2 separate regions of the Homo sapiens genome follow, and region 1 is linked to region 2. The links come from fine-mapping of genetic effects on gene expression. A gene starts in region 2. The other region holds a variant in brackets. All regions are shown on one strand. Distances are between the middles of the regions.

Evidence for each region.
Region 1: its variant is fine-mapped to the expression of TOX4 in hippocampus (GTEx, PIP 0.97).

What each region holds. Positions count from the first base shown.
Region 1 is chr14:20,662,851-20,673,251 of GRCh38, reverse strand. TRY-GTA5-4 (tRNA-Tyr (anticodon GTA) 5-4) reads left to right here and starts at 9,967; the gene lies at 9,967-10,060. RefSeq lists enhancers at 4,104-4,293, 4,944-5,283, 6,422-6,531, 9,773-10,052 and a silencer at 9,593-9,662. The variant C/T (reference allele first, on the strand shown) is at 4,138.
Region 2 is chr14:21,469,934-21,480,302 of GRCh38, reverse strand. It overlaps TOX4 (TOX high mobility group box family member 4), which reads right to left and starts at 3,108. Exons shown (of 9, transcript NM_014828.4): 1 at 3,019-3,108; 2 at 2,739-2,807. The coding sequence starts at 3,024. It overlaps RAB2B (RAB2B, member RAS oncogene family), which reads left to right and starts at 3,344. Exons shown (of 8, transcript NM_032846.4): 1 at 3,344-3,476; 2 at 3,704-3,775; 3 at 5,369-5,436. The coding sequence starts at 3,431. RefSeq lists enhancers at 3,158-3,227, 3,808-3,927.

The DNA of each region.
Region 1 (10,401 bases), 810 kb after region 2:
AAGCTTGGAGGTTAGAAGCAAGATCGAGTTGGTAGCCGGGTGCGGTGGCTCACGCCTGTAATCCCAGCACTTTGGGAGGCCAAGGCGGGCAGATCACTTGAGGTCAATAGGTGGAGACCAGCCTGGCCAACATGGTGAACACCCATCTCTATTAAAAAATACAAAAATTAGCCGAGCGTAGTGGTGCACGCCTGTAATCCTAGATACTCGGGAGGCTGAGGCAGGAGAATCGCTTGAACCCGGGAGGCGGAGGTTGCAGCGAGCCGAGGTTGCGCCACTGCACTCCAGCCTGGGCAACAGAGCAAGACTCCGTCTCGGAAAAAAAAAAAAAAAAAGATGGAGTTGGTTACATCAGACTTCTTTCACTGTTATAATTTTTGTAAAGGTGGTTTCACCAGCTGCACTCTTCTCATAGCTTCTACTGAGAAACTGGGGAGATTGCTGGCGGTGGGGAATCTGGGTCTAGCGAAGGTCTCAGGCAGTCTGCACTGATACTAATTTTCCAGGTCAGGAGAGACAAAGTAGTCATAGTGGGCCCATGTTTCCCCAGTGTGTCAAGCCAAAAGGTTAAAATAATAGGCACTATGGACTTAAAGAAATCAAAATTAATTTTGTCCCAAACCAAGTTGAGAACCGTAGCCTGGAACACAAACAGTGCAAACTGAGAATGTGTCCCAGAGTGGGTTACATGAGGCACGGTATTTACATGTTTTTTCTAAATAAAAAATCAAAGAAGGGGGCAGTGAAGCAAAGGTGACATTTTTACAGTTTTGACTGATGTTTAGTGATGGTATTCACAGACAAACCAAAAGTGTGGTTAACATATATAGGGATAGGGTAACAAGTAAAGGAGTATGTACGCATCTTAGGGTTTGGAGGGGAATGACTGATGTTATCTTGCTGTTAGAAAAAGGAAAATTCAAATAAAATGTTAATATGGGCCCACAATGGCTGCAGTTGGGCATATGGGTAATAAAACCCAGGCCTATAAACTAAAGCTGATCTCTTGCCTGTGTAACTGGAGTTTGTTGACAGGGGCTGGCCATGAACCTGTTTATCAGATGTAGAACAAAGACAGAATGGAATTAGTCACCCTTCCTCCACCAGACTCTAAGATGCTTAGCCTTTCTCCCTACTCACTCAACTGTATATTTACCTTATGTATGGCATCACTGAGCACTCATCAGAATCACAACAATGTAACCACTGTTTCATTAACCACTTCTCCCTCCTGTGCCACACACATCCCCGTTAGAAAATTTAAGTATACTGTGCCTCATGTAAACTACTTTGGGACCTATTGTAGGTCTATTCTAAGTCTGTGTTCTCAGGCATAACTCCTCAAACTTGGCTGAGAATAAATCTAACCATGACTTCTTTAAGTTCAAGTGCCTGTTATGTCACTTTTCAGTTGACACTGCCTTTGTGCTTCATCTGCTAGGCAAGGTTACAATCAGTAGACATCAGTGAAAACATTTGACATGGCTGGGTGTGGTGGCTCGCGGCTGTAATCCCAGAACTTTGGGAAGCAGACGTAGGTGGTTACCTGAGGTCAGGAGTTTGAGACCAGCTTGCCCAACATGGCAAAACCCTGACTCTGCTAAAAAAAAAAAAAAAAATACAAAAAGTAGCCAGACATGGTGGTGTGTGCCTATAGTCCCAGCTACTTGGGAGGCTGAGGCAGGAGGATCACTTGAACCTAGGAGGCAGCAGGTTGCAGTGAGCCGAAATCATGCCACTGCACTCCAGCCTGGGCAACAGAGCAAGACTCTGTCTCAAAAAAAAAAAAAAAGACAAAAAAAGACAAACTTTAGCCTTTCAGGCTAGAGTTCAGCTTTAGTTCATAGGTCTAGTTTCTATTACCTATATGCTCAACCTGCAGCCATCTTGGGCCACTTTTAAACATTGTTCTTTCAGATTTTCCTTTTTCTGACAAGTGCCATGCAGGAAAAATCAGGAGGGGGATGGGGGCAAGGGCTTTGTCCAGACAACATTTATGCAGATTGTATTCCTGGTCTGGCCTGGGGCCTTGTCTTCTTGTATGATGACTTTGGGAGGAGGGTTGCAATTGCTTGAGCCTAGAGACAAATATCTATTCCTTTTTCCTTCTGTTAGTTTTCTTGGTTGTGGATCAACAAAATGAAGATGTCTCCTAGAAGAGTAAAATAGTAAGGTCAGCAAGTCAAGGGTTAATGCGCCAGGCTGTAACAAAGGTGTGAGTTCTAGCCTCACTGGGGCTCCAGTTGCTTCAGTTTTTATGCTCTGGGATGTATTTACCAAGCTCAGATAACTTCACTGGTGAATTTTAATAAATGTTTCAGGAATAATGACAATTCTACACAACTTCTTGCAGCAAAACTGGAGAGGAGATAATAATTCTCAACTCTTTACATGAGGACAGTGTATTCTGATATTAAAAGCAAAGATACTTCAAAAGAAAGAAAACTACAGGTCAGTGTCTCTTAAGAACATGGAAGCCAAAAAGTTTAACATAACTTCGGCGAGTTGAATCCAACAGTATATAAAATAATGATACATCAGAATCAAGGGGGATTTATCCCAGAAAAGCAAATTTGGTTTGATATTCAAAATTAATCAATGTAATTTATTATATTAACAAACTATATTATATTAAAAAGAAAAACATGATTATATCAAAAGATGTAGACAAAACATTTGTCACAATTTCACATTTGTTTATTTATTGCTTACTTATATTTTTAGAGATGAGGGTTTCCCTCTGTCCCCCAAGCTGAAGGGCAGTGGCACAACCATAGCTCACTACAGCCTCAACTTCTTAGGCTCAAGTGATCTTCCTGCCTCAGCCTCCTGAGTAGCTGGGACTACCAGTGTGTGCCACCATGCCCTGATAATATCTTTTTCTTTATTTTCGTTTTTTTTTTTCTTTGAGATGGAGTTTCGCTCTTTGTTGCCCAGGCTGGAGTGCAGAGGTGCGATCTCACTGCAACCTCCGCCTCCCAAATTCAAGTGATTCTCCTGCCTCAGCCTCCCGAGTAGCTGGGATTACAGGCTCCCACCACCACACCTGGCTAATTTTTTTGTATTTTTAGTAGAGATGGGGTTTCACCATGTTGGCCAGGCTGGTCTGGAACTCCTGACCTCAGGTGATCCTCCCGCCTCAGCCTCCCAAAGTGCTGGGATTACAGGCGTGAGCCACTGCGCCTGGCGCCCTGATAATGTTTTAAAATTTTTCATAAAGGCGGGTTCTCACTTTGTTGCCCACGTTGGTCTTGCACTCCTGGGCTAAAGTGATCCTCTCATCTTGGCTTTCCAAAGCGCTTAGATTATAGACATGAGCCACCAATGCCCGCTACACATTCGCTTCTCATATAAACTCAGCGAATTAGAAATAGAAGGGCCTTTTCTCAATCTGATAAAGGGCACGTATGAAAAACTTTCAGCTAACAATACACTTAATGATGAAAGACTGAATGATTTCCCTGTGAGATTAGGACAAGCAAGGACATCTGCTTTCATCACTATCATCAGCAATGTGTGGAGATTCTTGAACAGTAATGCAAAAAAATAAAAATGGAAGCCATCCATGTTTAAAGGAAGAAGTAAAACTGTTTTATTCCGGGCTGGGCACAGTAGCTCACGCCTGTAATCCCAGCACTTTGGGAGGCCGAGGCAGGCAGATCACTTGAGGTCAGGAGTTCGAGATCAGCCTGACCAACATGGAGAAACCCCAAGTCTCTACTAAAAATACAAAATTAGCCAGGCATGGCAGCACATGCCTGTAATCCCAGCTACTCGGGAGGCTGAGGCAGGCGAATTGCTTGAACCTGGGAGGTGGAGGTTGCAGTAAGCCAAGATTGTGCCATTGCACTCCATCCTGGGCAACAAGAGCGCAGGGTTCTCTTCCAAGGCAGGTTCCAACCAACCCAACACATATTGGACCTCTGGCATTCCAGGGACTTGGTGTCCTCCATTTGCAGAAAGTCCAGTGACCCAGCTCTAACTTTGTGTGCTCTTTGAGAGATCAGCTGATAGAGTGGAGGACTGTACACATCTGTGGACATCCTTAGGTTGCTGGTTCAATTCCTGCTTGAGGGAAGTGTCTGAGTCTTTTGTACACACACCAGTGCTCCCTGGCTGCACCTCTGCCTGGTCAAA[C/T]GCCCTGCTGTCGCCACACTCTCCCAGGCAAAACCCAGCAAAGCCTTATCCAGATTACCTAGCTTGCCATGCCTGTGCTGTTGCCAGTACACTTCAGTGCAAAGTGCCCCTTACTTCTGCTTTGTGACCCAGCCAATCCCCCATCCGAACCCTTACCATCTCAGGGCTGCTTCATTTTTATTCACAGGGTGCTTTTGGACCTAAGCACTGCTGGGGAATCTGGCAACACAGCTGGATTCATCTGTGACCAAGCTCTCCTGACCAGGTTGGCAAACCCTGGAAAGCCAAGCTCCCAGGAGACCATCAAGCATTCAGGACAACAGTGTAGGGTCGAGGACAACCATGATACCATCCGTGAACTCACCCTCTCCCCCTCATTTCCTTCCTGAGCTATTACTACCTCACCTCTGTCTGTATCTCATTCTCTCTCTCTCTTTCACAATTTCTCTCTCTGTCTGTGTATATTTCTCTCTGTCTGTCTCTGCCCCTTCTCCCTAGCACTCTGTGTCTCTCTCATTCTCCTTTGCCGGAAATGTATAGACTCATACAGACAGAAAATGCTCATCCTTGCTATGTTGTGTCTACTTGGGGAGACAGCAGCCACCCTGAGAATTTTCTAAGGCAAAGAACCTCCATTGGCAAGGTCAGGTTGCCCCATGGGATGAGGACATGGTGTGTCTACCCACTCACCCCTGTCCTAAATCCCTCAAGCCTCACCTTTCCTGAGTCTTCACATCTTTTTATTTTGCTACAGCTGGGCTTGGCTCCTGCTGGAAGAGTAAGAATACCTAACACTCACCGCTTAGTTCAAAGATGTCAAAAACACCTGCCACTTAGGAGGCTGTGAGAGCAGGAAGGAAGTACAAAATGGCAGGCCTGAAAAGAGCTTCAGTGACTTGGGAGAGTTGGGGATTGTTGGTCTATGACAGGAAACAGAAGTGAAACTTGAGTGACATCTGTCATCATACAGCGGCACACAAATTCACCTCCTTAGAAAGGCCACTGCCTGGTGGGTCTGAGCAGTTTGGACCTTTTGCACTAGGATCTAGCAGCACAGTTGGGCTCTCCTACCTCTGAGAAAAATATGTTGAAGCCCAGTCAGAGAGGATGGAGCAGAAAATGGACTGGGCTTTCACCAACCAGTGGAGCTTCATATCTGTGGAGATGCAGTGGGTTTTGTGGGTATGGGGCAGAGAAGAAAGCCAATGAGTGTCCCTTGGTCTCATCCCAAGATCTCAGAAAAATGTGCATCAGACACTTGGTGTACAGATGCAACCTATCACAGAGAGCACTCTAAGCCCAGTGGTCCATGGGAGCATGGCCCTCTGAAGCCCTTTGAGGACTGGGTCCCTGCCCTCCCCTACCCTCTGTGGCCACAAGAACTGCTTCATTGTGGGTCTCAATCTGGAGACTGTATGTGTCTTCTTCTCCTGGAAAGCAGCAGACGGTCTCCCCCAACACTGCCTATTCCCCTCACGTTCCCCCGGCTGTGTCAATCTTTCCCACTTCTCACTGCTAGTGGAAAGGAGCCAAGCTGTGGATTCACCAGTGCTCTGAGACGATTGTATGGCTGTGGAGCTGCAGAGAGACCCCAGTCTCCAGTGACACCAAAAACAGAGACCAGTGAACAGGGACCAAAGGTAGCACCTTAGGTCTTCATTAGATATGTTCCTGATGGGACATGGAGGTACAGGTCCTCTGAAACCTCAGTTTGGTGTTTTGAGGGCAAAAGCAGAAGGGGGCCAGGTAGTGGGCTTTGGTGACCAGCACAAGCGAGGGTGAACCCCAGATGCCCACTTTTCCAGTCTGGGACATGACAGAGTAGCAAGGGGTGTTCATGCATCTGACTCTCACCTTTGGCCATTCAGACCCACTTAGCATAAGACAGGGAGTGGACTTAAACTCAATGGATGCTAGGTCCCTTGGGGTGGCTTGCTGTACCCCCACTAGGTGTTCAGCAGGGGGGTGGGTGTCTCCGTGGTCTTGGGGTGGTGGGCATACAGCAGATGGGATCTGAAACCTTTGCCAAAGATGTGGTGTCAGGAGAAACTCACACCTCTGTACTCTGCCACCATTTTTTTGTTTGTTTATTTTGTTTTTTTTTTTTTTTTTCCAAGAAACCCACAGAACCTTGCTGATATGGCTTGGCTGTGTCCCCACCCAAATCTCAACTTGAATTGTATCTCCCAAAATTCCAACGTGTTGTGGGAGGGACCCAGGCGGAGGTAATTGAATCATGGGGGCCAGTCTTTCCTGTGCTATTCTTGTGAATAAGTCTCACGAGATCTGATGGGTTTATCAGGGGTTTCTGCTCTGCTTCTCTTTCATTTTCTCCTGCCACTGTCATGTAAGAAGTGCCTTTTGCCTCCCACCATGATTCTGAGGCCTCCCCAGCCATGTGAAATTGTAAGTCCAATTAAACCTCTTTTTCATCCCACTCTGGGGTATGTCTTTATCAGCAGCGTGAAAATGGACTAATACAGTAAATTGGTACCAGTAGAGTGCGGCATTGCTGAAAAGATACCCAAAAATGCGGAAGTGACTTTGGAACTGGGTAACAGGCATAGATTGGAACAGTTTGGAGGGTTCAGAAGAAGACACGGAAATGTGGGAAAGTTTGGAACTTCTTAGAGACTTGTTGAATGACTTTACCCAAAATGCTGATAGTGATATGGATAATAAAATGCAGGCTGAGGTGGTCTCAGATGGAGATAAGGAACTTGTTGGGAACTGGAGCAAAGATTATTCTTGTTATGTTTTAGCAAAGAAATTAACAGCATTTTGCCTCTGCCCTAAAGATTTGTGGAACTTTGAACTTGAGTAAGATGATTTAGGGTACCTGGCAGAAGAAATTTCTAAGCAGCAAAGCATTCAAGAGGTGACTTGGGTATGTTAAAGGCATTCAGTTTTGGTTTTTTTTTTTTTTTGAGATGGAGTCTTGCTCTGTCGCCCAGGCTGGAGTGCAGTGGCGCGATATCGGCTCACTGCAAGTTCTGCCTCCTGGGTTCACACCATTCTCCTGTCTCAGCCTTCCGAGTAGCTGGAACTACAGGTGACCGCCACCACGCCCGGCTAATTTTTTTTTGGTATTTTTAGTAGAGACGGGGTTTCACCATGTTAGCCTTGATCTCCTGACCTTGTGATCCGCCCGCCTCGGCCTCCTAAAGTGCTGGGATTACAGGCGTGAGCCAACACGCCCGGCGGCGTTCAGTTTTATATAGGAAGCAGAACATAAAAGTTTGGAAAATTTGCAGCCTGACTATGTGATAGAAAAGAAAAACCCAAACCCATTTTCTGGTGAGAAATTCAAACTGGCTACAGAAATTTGCACAAGTAGCAAGAAGCCTAATGTTAATCCCCAAGACCATGGGGAAAATGTCTCCAGGCCATGTCAGAGACCACCACGGCAGCCCCTCCCATCCATCACAGGCCCAGAAGCCCAGGAGGAAAAAGTGGTTTCGTGGGCCGGGCCCAGGGTCCTAGTGCTGTGTGCAGCCTAGGAACTCCGTGCTCTGTGTCCCAGCTGCTCCCCCTGTGGCTGAAAGGGGCTAACATACAGCTTGGGCGGTAGCTTCAGAGGGTGGAAGCCCCAAGCCTTGGCAGCTTCCATGTGGTGTTGAGCCTGCGGGTGCACAGAAGTCAAGAATTGAGGTTTGGGAACCTCCTCCTAGATTTCAGAAGAGTATGGAAACGCTTGGATGCCCAGGCAAAAGCTTGCTGCAGGGGTGGGGCCCTTATGGAGAACCTCTGCTAGGACAATGTGAAAGGGAAATGTGTGGTCAGAGCCCCCACACAGAGTCCCTACTGGGGCATTGCCTAGTGGAGCTGTGAGAAGAGGGCCACTATCCTCCAGACCCCAGAATGGTAGATCCACTGACAGCTTGCACCGTGCACCTGGAAAAGCTGCAGACCCTCAAGGCCAGCCCAGGAAAGCAGCTTGGAGAGAGGCTGTATCCTTCAAAGACACAGGGGTGGAGCTGCCTAAGACCATGGGAATCCACCTCTTGCATCAGTGTGACCTGGATGTGAGACCTGAAGTCAAAGGAGATCATTTTGAAGCTTTAAAATTTGACAGCCCTGCTGGATTTCGGACTTGCATGGGCTCTGTAACTCCTTCGTTTTGGCAAATTTCTCCCATTTGGAATGGCTGTATTTATCCAATACCTGTACCCCCATTGTGTCTAGGAAGTAACGAGCTTGCTTTTGATTTTACAGGCTCATAGGCAGAAGGGACTTTCCTTGTCTTAGATAAGACTTTGGACTGTGGACTTTTGGGTTAACGCTGAAATGAGTTAAGACTTTGGGGGACTGTTGGGAAGGCATAATTGGTGTTCAAATGTGAGGACATGAGATTTAGAGAGGCCAGGGGCGGAATGATACTGTTTGGCTGTGTCCCTACCCAAATCTCAACTTGAATTGTATCTCCCAAAATTCCCACGTGTTGTGAGAGGGACCAGGGGGAGATAATTGAATCACGGGGGCCAGTTTTTCCAGTGCTATTCTCAGGATAGTGAATAAGTCTCACAAGATCTGATGGGTTTACCAGGGGTTTCCGCTTTTGCTTCTCTCTTATTTTCTCCTGCCTCTGCCATGTAAGAAGTGCCTTGGACAGGAGGGGTGGCTCACGCCTGTAATCCCAGCACTTTGGGAGGCCGAGGAGGGTGGATCACCTAAGGTCGGGAGTTCAAGACCAGCCTGGCCAACATGGAGAAACCCCAAGTCTTTACTAAAAATGCAAAATTAGCCGGGCGTGGCGGCGCATACCTGTAATCCCAGCTACTCCGGAGGCTGAGGCGGCAGAATCGCTTGAACCTGGGAGGCGGAGGTGGCGGTGAGCTGAGATCGCGCCATTTCACTCCAGCCTGGGCAACGAGAGTGAAACTCCATCTCAAAAAAAAAAAAAAAAAAAGAAGAAGAAGAAGAAGAAGAAGAAGAAGTGCCTTTCACCTCCAGCCATGATTCTGAGGCCCCCTAGGCATGTGGAACTGTGAGTCCAATTAAACCTCTTTTTCATCCCAGTCTCGGGTATGTCTTTATCCGCAGCATGAAAACGGACTAATATACTTGCCCTACTTCAGAAAGAGGAAGCCTCTGGGGGAGAAAAAAAAAAGAGTTCTTGGTCAGTTTGCAGAGGAGGGAAGCCAAGCCCCAGTTGGGCGCTGGGGAGGAAGGAGGGTATCACAGTGCATCTGCAAGCCCTGGGCGAGTTCTTCTCACCTAGTCCCATTTGTTCTCTCTCTCACTTCTAGCACACTTGAATGCGCCAAAAAGCAAGCATAGGACACTGTAGGGAAAAGGGCGGAGGCACATCGGGAGAAGGGGCATGTGTGTGTTGGCCGGGAAGGGAGTAGGAAGGCCAGAGTTTTAGGAAAGGGCTGCTTAAGGACTTTCAGCAGACCCTGCAGCTGGTCTGCGGATAGCGGCCGCCCACCCAGAAGCTTTCCGAGTTCTTCTTTCCTCCTCCTGCAACCCCTGTCCCACAGGATCCACCCATCCACCTAGCCCATCCCTCTGACCGAGCCCTCTCACCCTCTTGTTTTCTTTCGCTGAGGGCTGTCATCCTCACTTGTAAAAACAGAGATGCACAGGTGGAGGAAGGCCACAGGCGAGAGCCTCCCGTCCTGGATTGTGGCTATCAGCGCTCTGGGACGCGAGGAAACCACACTCGGAGGATTTGCTCCACCCTGAGAGGTGCGCGGTGGCAACCAGCGCAAGGTTCTCTTCTAAGGCGGGTTCCAATCAACTCTAAGTGTGTTGACTCCAGCGTTCCAAGGACTTGGCTTCCTCCATTTGCGGAAAGTCCAGTGATCCAGCTCTTGCAGCGTGCACCCTTCGATAGCTCAGCTGGTAGAGCGGAGGACTGTAGATTGTACAGACATTTGCGGACATCCTTAGGTCGCTGGTTCGATTCCGGCTCGAAGGAAGTGCCCGATGCTTTTGCATGCAATGCCACCTGGTGCCTGGTCAAACGCCCTGCAGCCTCCAACTAGTATCCACCCACACCCTCCCAGTCAAAACCCAGAGAAACCTTTCCTGATCACCTGGTTTCCACACCTGTGCTGTGGCCAGGAAACACGCCCGTAAGCCCACTCATTCTTCCCACAGTCCAGGGACAGGTACTCTTCAACGCAAAGGGCCCCTTGCTTCTGCTTTGTGACCCAGTCAGCCCCTCTCCCCAACCCCCTTCGCACCCCCACCATCCAGAGCTCTTTCACTTTTATCCACAGACTGCTCTGGGTGCTGAGGGCCATGGACTCTAGCAAC
Region 2 (10,369 bases):
AAATAAGATTTCTTAAGTCACAAAAACAAAAACAAAGGACAGATTCAAACCTGGAAAGTTTCTTTCTTTTTTATTATAATATTACTTGTTAATACTTTAAATTTACTTTTCTTCACTATACACCATGATTCTTCATGGGAAGTTTCTTGATGTGAAAAGGAACCACTTCTGTCCTGGCATGGTGGCTCACACCTACAATACTAGTACTTTGGGAGGCCAAGGTGGGAGGATCGCTTGAGCCTAGGAATTTGAGACCAGCCTGGACAACATGGTGAGATCCTGTCTCTATTAAAAACAAAAGCAAAAGCAAAAAGGAACCACTTTTTTAAATGTGGCTACCTCTTGATTGTTCAACTTCATAAATGGGGTAGAGAATTAAGAACAGTGGGTAAACTTGAAAGCTACTTGTATTTAATTTTAAAATGCACTTTCTCATGAACGAGGCCAACGTAAAATTTATAACACTCTAAATAACAAAATTTAAACTGTGGAGACCTGATTGAGGAGAAATTGGGAATTTCATGCAGGTAAGTCCAATGTGAGATTTGCAACACTCAAATAATGAAATTTAAAAATGAAGATCTCACTTAGAAGAAAATGGCAACTAAGAGTGCAAAGCACCAAGCAGATTTTAGCTGTTTTTGTTTGTTTGTTTGAGATGGAGTCTCACTCGTTCACCTAGGCTGGAGTACAATGGCGCAATCTCGGCTCACTGCAACCTCTGCCTCCCAGGTTCAAGCGATTCTCCTGCCTCAGCCTCCTGAGTATCTGGGATTACAGGCGCGCACCACCACACCCGGCTAATTTTTGTATTTTTAGTAGAGATGGGGTTTCACATGTTGGTCAGGCTGGTCTCGAACTCCTGACCTCGTGATCCGCCCTCCTTGGCCTCCCAAAGTGCTGGGATTACAGGCATGAGCCACCGCACCCCGCCTCACCTGTTTTTTTAAAATTAATTATTATTATCTTTTATAGAGACAGAGTTTGATCACGTTGCCCAAGCTGGTCTAGAACTCTTGGGCTCATGCAATTCTCCTGCCTCAGCCTCCCAAACAGTTGGGATTACTGGCACGAGCTACTGTGCTGGGCCCAGATTTAGGTTTTATATCATTTCAAAGTTTGCTGCATACTAGATTCACACTTATCCTGCTTATGAGAATAATAAATAAAAGCAACAAAAAAGTTAAACTGGCACTGGGCACATTGGCTCATGCCTGTAATCCTAGCACTTTAGGAGGCTGAGGCGGGCAGATCACTTGAGGCCAGGAGTTAAAGAGCCTGGGTAACAGGGTGAAACCCCGTCTCTACAAAAATTCAAAAAAAAAAAAAAAATTAGCTGGGTGTGGTGGCGCACACCTGTATTCCCAGCTACTTGGGAGGTTGAGGCAGGAGAATCACTTGAGCCCAGGAGGTGGAGGCTGCAGTGAGCCAAGATCGTGCTACTGCACTCCAGCCTGGGCTACAGGGAGACTGTCTCAAAAAAAAAAAGAAAGAAAAAAAAAGTTAAACTAGCAACTGGCCCTTGTCAACCCCATTTTCATCCATGAAAACGTTAGGATTATAGGATAAGCCCATGCAACAGCCACTGACAATTCTTGGTAAAAAAAACTGATGCAAATGGTCCACACCACTTTTGAAAATAAATATAAAAGTCCTCAAAAAATGGCAGATGGTTCAAGACTTCAGTTTCTCAAAGACAGAAATTTTTGTCTGTTCCACCATTCTCTTTTGCCTCTCCCAAACAAGTGATACATATCTATATTATGACAATATTTCAACCAAACTTTTTTAACGAACACTTCAGGGTTTCATCATAACCTTTACTTCTACTTTAAAACAGCATAAGAAACTATAATTACAGCTGTTTGACAGCTGGGGAAACTGTGACATACAAAGATGAAGTAATGTGCCCAACGTCTGAGTCACTGGCAAATTGAAACACATGTCCTACTCAACTCTTTTATATTCTCTAGCAGCTATTTCCTTTCCTCCTGACATTAGCAAAACAAGCTGACACCATGTAGGTAAAGGTAACCACAAATTTTTTATCAAAGTAGGAAATTTAGGCCGGGCGCAATGGCTCAGGCCTGTAATCCCAGCACTCCGGGAGGCCGAGGTGGGTGGATCACCTGAGGTCAGGAGTTCGAAACCAGCCTGGCCAATATGGTGAAACTGCCATCTCTACTAAATATACAAAAATTAGCCGAGCGTGGTGGCGCACGCCTGTAATCCCAGCTACTCGGGAGGCTGAGGCAGGAGAATCGCTTGAACCCAGGAGACAGAGGTTGCAGTGAGCCGAGATCGCACCACTGCACTTCAACCTGGGCGATAAAGCGAGACTCTGTCTCAAAACAAAAGAAAACCAATAAGCTCCTCCCCTCAACCCCAATTTCTTCAGCTGCTGAAACATTTTCTTTCCACTGCGATCCCCTAAGATTACTGTAGCTATTTCTCCCCAGAGAAAGGAGACAATTCCACTCTGTCTTCTAATCCAGAATCCCTTTTCTCTTTAAACAGGTTATCTCTTTCCAATACCTTGCTTTCTGATGACAGCAACTTCCCAAGACTTCCCCAGATAGTCCCCACAGGCTCTAGAAGCAACCGCCACTTTTCTCTAAACACCAATTGCGGCCCTTGGTTCCCAGCCCCCGTCCCCGGAGTCCGTGCTCTCCTCCCCACTACCCTACCCCACCGCTGCCTCAGGCCCTACCCCCGCGGCGTCGGCAGCTCTGGCTCACCTCGGCCCCTGACAGGAAGGGGTGCGAAGGCCCTGTGATCGTCAGGTAATTGTCATTTCCTCCGGGAAACTGGAAACCAAAAGAAAGTCGCGGGGATAAGTTAGGGGGAGCAGGGAGTCAGCTTGGAGCGATGGCTTTTGACCCTGACATTCTGACAACACTCCCCAAACCCCGCTCTCTCTCCTCTCCCGTCAGTCGCCTCTCCGCCCGGCTTCCCGTCCCTGCTTCAACCCGGTCGGCCGCGTTCTCTCGCCAGCCTTCTTAGCTATCAGGTTCCTACCTCCATCTTCACACAACCGCTCCCACCGTCTCAGACCCTCATCGCTCCCACCGCCCCCACTGGACTCGGAACTGCCGTCACTTCCGCAAGGACGTGTGTTCTCTCTGCTGATTGGAAGGAGCGCCGTGGGGCTGCAGAGAGTCAGGCGCTGGGCTATCGCCCCCTGGAGTTTGGAGGGATAAGGGCATGTAGAAGTGCTAGAAGCGTCCCTGGAGGTGGCGTAGGGTACTCCCGACCTAAGGATGATTCCGGGGAGTGCAATAGAGACGTGATCTGGGCTAGAGGAGCCGGAGGGGCGGGGGAGCGGGGGGAAGGGGGAGAAGAAGAAGATCGGTAGATTGAGTGGCTAGAGAGGTCGGAGGTAAGTGGCTATAGAAGTCGGGCGGACCCGGAACCCAGAGGACGCGACACCATGACTTATGCTTATCTCTTCAAGTATATCATCATCGGAGACACAGGTAACCCTCAGGTGGTTCGCCTTCAAGGCTCGGGCGGGCATTCGAAGCTCCCAAATTGGGTGGCGGGGGCGGGGCTCACTTTGTGGGCTGGGCGATTCGAGACGGGCGGGGCGGTTCGGGGCGGCCGGGGGCGGGGCTCGGGAGCCCCCCTTCTCTGGTCCGGGAAGTCCATACTCTGGAAGGTGTTCCAGGGCTGCGTGATTCCGGGAGTGTGCTTTCTCTTTCAGGTGTGGGGAAGTCATGTCTCCTCCTGCAGTTTACAGATAAGCGGTTCCAGCCTGTCCACGACCTCACAATAGGTAAGTGCATCTACTTGTTCCAGAACAGATGATAAAACCTGACTAGCTAAATTGCTAAAGTGGAAAGTTAGCAGCCTTCAGTGTTCGAAGTAAAAAGTTACCCCTCACTACTTTAAACTAGTCCAAACTTATGTTAATGAAGTGACCAATGAAACGTTGATATGTGGGGAGTAGTGTAAGGGAGAGTATATAATTGAAAGGTAACTTTTTAGAGTGTGAGGTATAGACTCGTCATATAATTTTTTTTCAAATACAATTTGTATGTTTATGGAAAATCCCACGAAAGCATAACTGCTTATTTATGAACTCATCTGTGCTTTGAGGTAAATTAATACCAGCCTTACTTTTAAAAAGTAAACACCAATACATGGACATTTTTTATATTGGTGAAGAAGCAAATTGAGGAGTCATCCCTGCCTTAGAATTAATAGGCAAATAAAACTAAAAACTTTCCTTTTAAATGAAAGAGTGTGTTAACAGTTCCTCAAACGCACTGGCGATCCTGGAAAATATTAACCTTTCCCACACGTTTGTGATAAGGCATGGCCTGAAGAGGCTTTTAACTACCCCCTCTTCGTTATCTCCGTAACCCCAGTCCAAATAAACAACATATATGAAACTAGCTTTCTTGCCATGCAAATGCAGTTTCTAAATAAACCCCTACATCCCCATTCTTACCATATTGCTACTTCCAAGTCCCACCTGTATGGAAACCTGAAGCTACCACTGTTCCTAACGGATTTATTTAGAGTCAAATAATTGATGGGGTTAGAAAAGGATTTGGCAGTATCAACTAAAAGGTATTTTAAAGGGAATATTGAGCGAATTCTCACTTTGCGATAGGGGCTAATGATACAATGCTTAACAAGGCAACAATGCTTAATTGTGCCTCTGGCAATTATTGGAAATGTAAAATGTATTGTTAAAAAAATTAGGTGGGCGTTGTGGCGTGTGCCTGTAAGGTACTTACTTGGGAGGCTGAGGCAGGAGAATCACTTGAACTCAGGAGGTGGAGGCTGCAGTGAGCTGAGATCGCACCACTGCACTCCAGCCTGGGTGACGGAGCGAGACTCCATCTCAAAAAAAAAAAAAAAAAAGTATTGTTTCTGAGAACCTATTTCTTAGGCTCTTTTCTTAAAGAAAAACATCTGGAATTGCAAAAAAATAAATATTGTTTTAAGTAGAGACTAAAGAGTGACTGAGAAAGTGTCAGGAAATATTTCCAAAATTTTTAGTTTTTTGGAAAAGTTACAAAACTAAATGTTACCTAACCAAATTTAAGCATTAACCTAACATTGCTAAAAAAGTATTCACCTTTTTAAATTTGACTTCTTAATTGGTTTTATTTTCCCATATCTGCTTTTTGGTTACATTCCTGAGGTCATTGAGCACAATTTTTTAATTCTAGAAGGGAAATGAAGAACCTTAAGAAACACAAAATTAATTGGAGCAAATAGGCAGCAATAATGGAATTAGTGGCATTGAGTTCAGACAAAGGATGGTTATAACACATTGAGGAAAGGCAGGAACCTCCCACTCCACGTGGCTGCTGTTCGTGAGAATCACATTCTTTCTCTCGGTCTTTACCGACAGGTGTGGAGTTTGGAGCTCGTATGGTCAACATTGATGGAAAACAAATCAAACTGCAAATCTGGGATACGGTGAGAGTACAAAATAATTTAGTCTCTGACCAATATCCAAGTATAACAAGAAAAGCTGATGCAAAGGAAAGGGGCGATGAGGGTGGAACTAATGGTGGGGATAAAGTAGGGGAAAGGTGAAATCAAAGAGAGAAGTTTTTGATTCTGTTACAGTTACAAATTCTGGATGCTGTATCTTTGTGTTGTAAACGATCCAAGTAATAGTTTATTCTAGTAAAAATAAAATCAAACAATATAAATTTATAGAATAGAAAGTAAATGTCCCCTTTTGATACATAAACTCTTTCTCCCTTCCCATCTTGGTTGGTACTCTAGCAGGGAAATCATTACTGATGATTCCACGTGTATGCTTTCAGACTTTTTCTATGCATTTAGATACATACATGTAAACACATAGAAATATATGGTAGTAGTTTTGTTTTTATTAGTGTTTACATGTATAGAATCGTGACAGAGTAGACCTAGTTGTGTGACTTAGATTGTATATTAAACAATCTCTATGTTGTGGGGACCTTTCCATATCAATACATATAGATCTGTCTCATTCCTTTTAACCACTGCGTAGTCATGGAATGTCAGTAGCATGATTTATGTAACCATCATCCTACTGATAGAAATTTGGGTTGTTTTCCAATTTTTAAGTATTGCAGAATTTCACTGAGCATTCTTTTTTTTGAGACAGAGATTCACTCTTGTCACCCAGGCTGGAATGCAATGGCGTAATCTTGGCTCACCGCGACCTCCACCGCCTGGGTTCAAGCAATTCTCCAGCCTCAGCCTCCTGAGTAGCCGGGATTACAGGCACCCACCACCACACGTGGCTAATGTTTTTTGTATTTTTTGTATTTTTTTTCTGAGACGGAGTCTTACTCTGTTGCCCAGGCTGGAGTGCAGTGGCGTGATCTCAGCTCACTGCAAGCTCCGCCTCCCGGGTTCGTGCCATTCTCCTGTCTCAGCCTCCCGAATAGCTGGGACTACAGGCGCCTGACACCACGCCTGGCTAATTTTTTGTATTTTTAGTAGAGAGGGGGTTTCACCGTGTTAGCCAGCATGGTCTCGATCTCCTGACCTCGTGATCCGCCCGCCTCAGCCTCCCAAAGTGCCGGGATTACAGGTGTGAGCCACCACTCCCGGACGTTTTTTGTATTTTTAATAGAGATGGGGTTTTGCCATGTTGGCCAGGCCGGTGTTGAACTGACCTCAGGTGATCCACCCACCTAGGCCTCTCAAAATGCTGGGATTACAGGCGTGAGCCACAGTGCCCAGCCTGAACATCCTTATTTACAAAGTTTTTATGCCAATGTTTGAGAATTTTTGTGGAATATCTGCCCAGAAATGGAAACTCTGTCAAAAGCTTGTACATATTTTCAAATTTGATACATGTAGTAATGCCAAAATTTAGCTTGGCTTAGTGTAGTTTTGCCCTATCCAGATAAATTGCTTTCATGTGCATTATCTCATTTGATTTGTACATTTTTCCCCCTAAGTAAAATAATACCTTAGTCTCCATTCTAGTTAAAGGGAGCTAGTAAATAGCTAGTAAATAATATTTGGCTAAAATCTCTTACTTTTTTTGCTTACTTCTTACTATGTGATTCTGTTTCTTCTCTGAACTGAGAGCTAAAGCCATTATATCTGCAAACAGTGTACACATTATTTTTCCTTTTTTCTTTTCCTCCCTTTCCTCTCCTTCCCTCCCCAATGCTCCTCACCACACGCAAGTGTATGTCTTAAAAGTAGTTGAAGCTTAAGTTCATCTGTCTATCCATCCATCTATCCGTCTATCTCTACAGATCTATCCCCTGATCCCCTGCACTGGGGAATTTTTGTATTTTTTGTAGAGACGGGGGTTTCAACATGTTTCCCAGGCTGGTCTCGAATTCCTGGACTCAAGTGATCCGCCCTCCTCAGCCTCCCAAAGTGTTGGGATTACAGGCCTGAGCCTTGGCACCTGGCCCAGATGAATGTTTTGATGCTGGGGAAAAAAACCCAATAAGTGCCATTTAATGGAATGGTCATGGCAATGGCCTTTTTTTTTTTTTTTTAAGCACTCATATGGGACATGGTTGGATCATGAAAGTAAGAAAGTTGAGAGCTTGATTCTGCTGAGAATGCATACATAGAAAAACAAACAAAAAAGGAAAGTTGAGAGCCACGACTTTGGACAGAATCCTTAAGAACTACATGGTCATCCAACTGGCCTAGTTCTTTTCTGTTCCCTCTTAAAATTGTCTTGAGATTAATATTTGCTAAATCATAAAAAGGAACCAGTTTCAGAACACTGTGGTTTTCTATATATTTTGAAAATTTTAAAAGATTCATACGTATAATAATGTGTCCATCTAGTCTGTCGCCTTTTGGGTAAGTCTGGTCATTTCTCCGTTGTCAGCCCTGATCTCCTGCCCATTGTTTACCCATCTTAGCTTCCCACTTTATTGACCCATTCTCTCACTTACTTCCAAACCCATCCTACATGAAAATGTTTAGGGATTACTGTGATAGGTATTTTAAAGAGATCAGGTTGTCCAAAGGTTTTTGTTGTCTTTGTTCTGGCATTTATGTGGATTTAGAGAAGCATATTTTAAAAAATCGTGTGTGTGTGTGTATACACGTATTCCTAAATAATCATGCTAATGAATAGGTATTTTACTGTAATATAAAATACTGATCAAATAATATCAAATTGGTTTGTATTTTACTTTGGAATGCAATTAAAATTTTTTTTTCCTTAATAAACCGTTCATTGGAAGGAATGCATTTTGATTCTTAGGAAAATGGTGTATCTGACTTTCTAGGAGTTGATACTTCAAACTGTATATCTTAATATAGTATGATGCTTCCACTTGGGAGAGATTAGAAAGCTATTAATTATCTTATCAAACCTTCATCTAGGCCGGGTGTCGTGGCTCATGCCTGTAATTCCAGCACTTTGGGAGGCTGAGGCAGGCGGATCACCTGAGGTCAGGAGTTTGAGACTAGCCTGGCCAACATGGTGAAACCCCATCTCTACTAAAAATAAAAAAATTAGCCAGGTGTGGTGGCGGGCGCCTGTAATGCCAGCTACTGGGGAGGCTGAGGCAGGAGAATCACTTGAACCTGGGAGGCGGAGGTTGCAGTGAGCCAAGATCATGCCACTGCACTCCAGCCTGGGCAACAGAGCGAGACTCCCTCTCAAAAAAAAAAAAGGAAAAAAAAACCTTCATCTTAGTTCGTTGCTGCTGCATCTTTTCTTTTCTTTTTTTTTTTTTTTTGACAGGGTCTTGCTCTGTCACCCAAGCTGGAGTGCAGTGGCACCATCTCCACTCATTGCACCCTCAACCTCCCCGGCTCAACTAGTCCTCCCACCTCAGCCCCTCAAGTAGCTGGGACTACAGATGTGTGCCATCACACCTGGCTAATTTTTTGTATTTTTTTTAGAGGCGTGGTTTCACCATGTTGCCCAGGCTGGTCTCAAACTCCTGAGCTCAAATGATCTGCCCACCTTGGCCTCCCAAAGTGCTGGGATTATAGGCATGACCCACGGTGCCCAGCCTGCTGCTTCAGATTTTTTTACTGGGGATGGCCAAGGATACCTGAGACTGATATAGACAAGACCAAATTGAACTGCTCACTCTTTCTAGCTTACTGGTTCACAAACTTTGGCTCATGAACTGGAATGAGATGAAGTAGAGTGATTTTTTTTTTTTTTTTAATTTAGACAGAGTCTCACTCTGTTGCCCAGGCTGGAGTGCAATAGCGCCATCTTGGCTTACTGCAGCCTCTGCCTCCCGGGCTCAAGCAGTTCTCCTGCCTTAGCCTCCTGAGTAGCTGGGATTACAGGCGTGCGCCACCACGCCCACCTATTTTTTTTTTTTTTTTTTTTTTTTTTTTTTTGTATTTTTAGCAGAGATGGGGTTTCATCATGTTGGTCAGGCTGGTCTCAAACTCCTGACCTCGTGATCTGCCCGCCTTGGCCTCCCAAAGTGCTGGGATTACAGGCATGAGCCACTGCGCCTGGTGAGTGATTTGATTTTAAAAGGTTTTCTCATGACCCACTGATAGCATTTTCAGCTGCTAAAGATAAATGCTGCCATGTGATTGAACCATCATGTGGGCCTCCCTCAAACTTTCCCTTTTAGTTCTTGGTAGGCTGTGAGGGAAGTAGAGGGAGGCTTACAACCATAGCAGAAGAGGAGAAAAAGTAAGTGCTAAAAGGAAAACAAGACCCAAATAACGTAAGACATTAGGGAGTAAATATAAAACTGTAAGTATTTTTTTAATCTTAAAATATTATTAGTATTATGACAGGGGACTTCAGAATTAGTTTTTATTTTCCGATTCTGATTCTCTAACAGCTATGCAACTCACTCACATGTTTCTATGATTCTTATAGAAAGAGATTCTTCTGTTGTTGGAAAATTAACCTTAGAGTTAGTATACTGGAATTCTCTTCTCACCTACAAACCCCAGTTTAGGTTATATGATATAGTGGCTAAGAGGACAAGTTTTTGTCCTAGGAAGTACTAAGATCCTAAGTTTAAATTATGGCTCTAGCACTTAATAAGCTTTATGATTTGGGGCCGTTTATTAAACTTGTGTGAGCCTCATTTTCCCCATTTTTAAAAGGAAATAATAAGCCAGGCACGGTGGCTCATGCCTGTAATCCCAGCACTTTGGGAGGCCGAGGCGGGTGGGTCATGAGGTCAGGAGTTCAAGACCAGCCTAGCCAACATAGTGAAAACCCATCTCTACCAAAAATACAAAAAAATTAGCCAGGCATGGTGGTGGGCGCCTGTAATCCCAGCTAATTGGGAGGCTGAAGCAAGGAGAATTGCTTGAACCTGGGAGGCGGAGGTTGCAGTGAGCCAAGATTGCGCCACTGCACTCCAGCCCGGGCAACAGAGCGAGACTCCCTCTCAAAAAAAAAAAGAAAAAAAAAAAGGGAATAATAATA